Regions from separate parts of the Homo sapiens genome. Here region 2 is linked to region 1. Evidence: fine-mapped expression QTL. Tissue or cell type: whole blood. Region 1 holds a variant in brackets; the other region holds the start of a gene. All regions are shown on one strand. Distances are from middle to middle.

The links. PIP is the estimated chance that this variant, and not a neighbour inherited with it, causes the effect.
Region 2: it holds the start of MYO9B, and the variant in region 1 is fine-mapped to the expression of MYO9B in whole blood (TOPMed, PIP above 0.99).

The regions. Positions count from the first base shown.
Region 1 is chr19:17,209,579-17,212,418 of GRCh38, reverse strand. MYO9B (myosin IXB) reads right to left here. Exons shown (of 40, transcript NM_004145.4): 36 at 2,710-2,833; 37 at 2,039-2,086; 38 at 1,571-1,704; 39 at 645-772; 40 at 1-524. The coding sequence ends at 109. Among named protein-coding and RNA genes, the nearest start is that of USE1, 4.4 kb to the left of the region's middle. RefSeq lists an enhancer at 1,606-2,111 and a silencer at 2,481-2,590. The variant C/T (reference allele first, on the strand shown) is at 1,158.
Region 2 is chr19:17,074,750-17,077,419 of GRCh38, reverse strand. MYO9B (myosin IXB) reads right to left here and starts at 1,643. Exons shown (of 40, transcript NM_004145.4): 1 at 1,546-1,643. It overlaps HAUS8 (HAUS augmin like complex subunit 8), which reads left to right and starts at 1,968. Exons shown (of 11, transcript NM_033417.2): 1 at 1,968-2,026. The coding sequence starts at 1,998. RefSeq lists silencers at 1,207-1,501, 1,496-1,845 and an enhancer at 2,026-2,225.

The DNA.
Region 1 (2,840 bases):
TTGATTCTGGATCCTTCTCTGAGGGCCGAACACTAGCTCTGCAGCTCTGGCGCCCAGCTCCAGTGCAGGGGCCGTCCTCGGACATGCAGACTTTGTCAGCTGTGGCTCTCAGCCATTGGTCTGGCCCGAGGCGGGGGGCAGGCAGTACGTTGGGGGATCCGAGTACCTCCGCTTGGCCCCAGGTGGCTGGCCATCCTCTTCTAGGGGCTCCAGGGCGCCCTGCACTGGCAGGTCTGCCCCGGGCGTGATGTACACGGAATGTATCTGGTCCGGGCGGCGGGCAGGTGGCTCCCGGCGCCGCACTGGGGCAGCCGCCTCCCGGGCACCCGGTGCCCAGCGAGGCAGGTGGGAGGGCAGGCCTGGTGGGAGCTTGATGTTGGCCGTGGGCATGATGGGGGTCCGCCGGGGGGTCTTCACTCTGACCGTTACGAAGGACGACGGCCTTCGTCGTGGAGGGGCGGCCACGGTGGGGAGGGGGCTCGGGGTGGGCGCGCCGGGGCAAGGGAGAGCAGGCGCAGGGGGCCCTTTTGAGAGACAGATGGCAGGGTTACTGCAGCTTCAGGGCCGGCAGCCGGAGGACCCTCGCCCTGGGGCCTGCTGGGATGGACGGGAAGGAGAAAAGCAGACGCTACCTTAATACTGACCTTCCGAGGCCCCCCGCCCGGCCCGCTCCTCCAGCAGGCTCTCGGTGCTGGCCGACGTCTCCGAGTCCAGGTTCTCCTCGTCCGAGCCCCTTGGGTCCAGCTCCGGCAGCCGGTAGGTGATGTCCTCCCTGGAGGAAAAAGGGTAGTGGTGTCCAAGGCCACCCCACCGGAAGTGCTGGGCCAGTGTGGAACAGAGCAGGCTGTCCTGCTCCTAGATGTAACTCTGTGTCCCCAACCTCCCCCCACCCCAAGCAGGAGGATTGCTTGAGCCCAGGAGTTTGAACCCAGCCTGGGCAACATAGGCGGACCCTGTTCTGCAAAAAGTAAAAAAAATTAGCCAGGCGTGGTGGTGTGCACCACCTGTGGTTCCGGCTACTGGGGAGGCTGAGGTGGGAGGACCCCGTGAGCCTAGGGGATTGTGGCTGCAGTGAACCGTGATCGCACCACTGCAATCCAGCCTGGGTGACAGAGAAAGACCCTGTCTCAGAAATAAAGGCCGAGTGCGGTGGCTCA[C/T]GCCTGTAATCCCAACACTTTGGGAGGCCAAGGTGGGTGGATCACTTGAGGTCAGGAGTTCAAGACCAGCCTGGCCAATGTGGTGAAACCCTGTCTCTATTAAAAACACAAAATTAGCAGGGCATGGTGGTGGGCACCTGTAATCCCAGCTACTCGGAGGCTGAGGCAGAGAATCGCTTGAACCCGGGAGATGGAGGTTGCAGTGAGCCGAGATAGCACCACTGCACTCCAGCTGGGCGACAGAGCGAGACGCCGTCTCAAAAAAAAAAAAAAAAAAAAAAAAAGTGTTGTTTGCCCAGTGTTAGGGATGACAGGACCAAACCTGGCGAGGTCAAGCGGACCACCAGGGATGGAACCTGCACTCCAGCTTGCCCTAAACATGAAGGACTGAGGGAGGGGACTGAGCCACTTGCTTCTCCTCCTTGATGGACTGGATCCGTTCAATGAGAATCTCCTTTTCCCGGTCCTCATCGCCGCCGGCTGCCTCCTCCTCCAGCAGCACCTCCAGCTCCTCCTCCTGGATGTCCCGGGTCTTGGGGCTCTTGTTCTGAAACAAAGAAGCAAGGGGTCCCACTGACATCTCTGAGTGGGCGAGGTTACTGCCGGAGGTGTGAGCAGATCCCAGGAGGTTAGTTGTGATGTGAGTGTGCTGGGCTCTTAGTGAGACTTCTCTAGGAATCCCATGGGACAGAGTGGTGGTCATGTGGCCGATTAGTCGTCCTGAGCACAGAAGGTCAGCAGGCAAGGGGCCTCCCCAGCATGCACTTCCGGAAGGTTAGGACAGGCTCTGTCTATCCTACGAGGGGCCCAGGGCCCCAGGGAACCCCAGCATGCACTGCACCGGGAGACATGCACCGCGGGCCCACCGAACGCGTACATACCAGGACCCCCTCATAGGGAGACGAAAACCCCAGTTTGAGAGGCCATGGCTGGGAGAGAGATGAACACAGGGTGACCACACGGGCCAAGACAGACACAGGCATGAGCTGGGGATACATCCAATGACCGGTACCAAGATAGGGGGTCCCTGGTTCCCACAGGAGCCCAGAGCCCGTTCCCCACTAACACACCCCTGCACTGTGGGGCTGATTCTTCTGCTATGGGAACATTTCCCCGTGGGTAGGGCCCAGGTCAGAAGGGACAAGGCTGGACGCATGACCTGAACCACCAGCAAGCAGGAAGCTGGTCCCCCTACCTGCCCCACCTAGAGGAACATAATTGGAGTGAGGCTGAGCGAGGACCATCGTCTTTCGTTCAAGGCAGTAAGTCTGCCCCTACCTGCAGGGCCTGGTGGCCCCAGCCAGGCTGGTTGTGGCCAAGGGTGTGGTAGGAGTGGGCGGGGAACTGGGAAGGGAGGCCCCGCCCTGCTACCCGAGACCACACCCACTACCCGGTCCCATCCTCGGCATGGGAGGTCCTGCCCACCCAAGGCCCCGCCCACCAAGACCCCACTCACCAGCCTTCCCAGCAACAAAGCCACGCCCAAGGCCCTGCCCAGCACCAGGCTCCGCCCCACCAAAGAGGTCCCGCCCCCACGATCACCGGTACTCACAGCATTTTGTCGCAGGAGCGAAAGCCTGCGGAAGGCGATACTCTCTGCAGCCTCCAGTTGGCTGATCTCCTCCATCTTCACTTTGTATTTCCTCATCTGCTCCTTGATCAGCATCTCCACGCACCTACAGA
Region 2 (2,670 bases), 130 kb after region 1:
CTGGGGCAAGCCAGGCCAAAGCCACCTTTCCTAAAGGCCAGGATATTCTGGAAGTGAAGGGGGTGCTTATCTTTCTGTGGCCCTCTTTATATTCCAGCTATCCGGGTTCATCTCCTGAATGAGCTATAAACTAAACATAAGCTGGGGTTCCCCAGCCCTTCTGGCAGATCCCAGATAAAGATCCCTACAGTTGGGAAAGGGGAGAAATGAATGCCAATCAAAAGCACCCTGCACAAAGTCCCTGCCAGGGCCACAAGAGCCAGGCCTGTCAGATGTGAATAACTTTCCTGTAGCCCAGGTCACCTCCGGCTGCTCCTGGACACCTTAAGATTCTGAAGACTCCAACATCAAAAAACAAACCGAGTTGGGACTCTCTGGCTGGAAAGTGTCCCCACGGGCTCCCACCTCAGACAAAGAGGCAGAGAAGCCATCCCTTAAAGACCCCTGGCCTCCAGGGTGCCCAGGAAAGAAAGGAGGGCTCGTGGCTGTCGTGCCTCTCCAGGGCTGAGCTCAGAGCAACCGGGGGACAGATTTCCTGTATGTCGTTTTACCCATTTAAGTCCAAGGATGCAGCTCTGCGGAGGTGGCGACAGTCCTGTACATGAGGGTGCATGCACACTCCCTCCTGAAACACAGTTCCGGCCCCACAACCGGCCCTGAGGTCCCTTCCTTGGATCCAGGGAATCCCAGAATCCTGCTAGTCCTGTCTTAAGGGGAGGGTGGTGAAGTTTCCAAGACGAGGACACTGGCACAGAGGGTGTTGGGACTCGTCCCAGGTCACCCAGCTGTTAAGTGTGAAGTCAGGAGGGACACGAATCAAGAGGGGAGGGTGGGGGGACGGAATCTCCAGGGGCTGCATCTCAACATCTATCTGCACGGGGCCACTCTAACCCCTTCCTTCTCTTCCCTCCTCTCCGGGCCCTCCCTCCCTAAGCCTACCCTCAGTTCTTACCGTGACTTCTACTCCGTTTACTTCCCTTCCAGCTCCCATTTCCCCGCTTCCCAATAGCCGGCTGCCGCATCAGTTAGTTCAGAACCCCCCGCATTTACTGAGCGCCCACTGGGGGCCAGGCGCCGCCCTCTTCTCAGACACCCTTCCTTCAATCGCGCGGGCAGACGTCCCCAGATCGGTCTCGCACCCCTTCCCCTCAACCGCACCCCGGCTGTCCCGCCCCTGGCCTTGCCCACTCCCCCAGCCTGGGCCTCTCGTTCCCGCCTCCGTGCCTCCCCACAACGCCGTTTCCTGCGACCCCCCAATTACCACTTAAGCCACGTCCTCTTCAGAGAAGCTGCTCAAAGCCACAAGACTCACCCCCCCCACGCCCTCGAACTCCCTCACCAGCTCCATCCCCATCCACTTTCTCCTTCACCGTCTCGCTTCCACCTCATCCCCAGCAATCTCTCCAAGACCCCCAGGCTCGTTCCCGCCCCCTCGACCCCTGCCGTCGCGTCCCCCATCAGCCCTCAGCTCCGTCCCTCTTCTGCGCAGCCCCCAAAGGCAGGCTTCGAGCTCGAGTCGCCAACCCGAGGCTGCCTGGTACTCACCTGGCCTCGGCCGCCGCGCGCCGCCGGTCCCGGGCCGGGTCCCCGGCCGGACGACCGCCTGCCAGCCCGCCGCTGCTCGAGCCGCTCCGCCCCGCCGCGCCCGCCGCTCCCCCGCGCGCTCCCGCTTCCGGGTTCCGGAGAGGCGGGGACGGGGGCGTGACGCCAGCGCTCCTAGGGGCGGGGCATCGCGAAAAGCCCCGCCCCTACTGTCCGACAGATCAGGTCCCACCCACCGCCCCTACCCACTACCGCCGATGGTGGGCGAGACCAAGTGCGAGGGGAGGACAGGCGAAGCGCGCGTCTGGGGCCGCGCTCTCCACACTTAGCCGGCGCTGCCTCACGCCTCGCAGCCACCCCTCCTGCGTCTCCACAAATGGTCCGACCCGCAAGCAAGGGGGCGGGTCCGGCTTTGAAAAGCCGGCGGGTCGGGCCTTGAGGTGGAAGGCGGGAAAATGGCGGATTCCTCGGGGCGAGGCGCTGGGTGAGTTGGGGCTTCCGCAGGTCTGGATTTGTAGACGCCATAGGGCTGGAGAGGATGGGCAGCGGAGGTGGGGAGTTAGGACCCTCGGGGTGAGTTCGGGTTCGACCCCGCCAGGAACTGCGCGGGCCCCTGAAGACCCCGATGGCGTGCTGCCTCTGCGCATGCTCCGGAGCGCTGACACCCGACCGGCCCTGAGTTCCGCGTCCTCGGCTGGGACGCTGGGCGACCTCCGGCAAGCGGCCTGACCGCCCAGTGCCTCGCTTTCCTCCGCTACGAAATGGGGCCGATGACGCAGCTCAACCTCGTAGGCGTCGCGTGAGGCTGAAACGCGCTTAGATCGGCGCCTGGGTCTTTACTGTGATGTCGCTCTTGGAATTATCGTTATGCAGTGAACAAGTGTTGGGCGACCAAAGTGTCCCCTTTAATCCTCCCACGCGCTTTATTCTGTGCTCCCAGTTTACTGAGGAGATGATGGAGACCCAGGGAGGGGAAGTGACTTGCCTAGGGTAACACACCATGAACAAGAAAGAAGTTGAATACTGACCGAGAGCTAGGCATGAATGATCATGAGGCTATATTTGTCTAGTTTTGTTAATTCTGCCAGTGTTGATTGTGCCAGGTGCAAACTGAAGTGAAATTGGCCA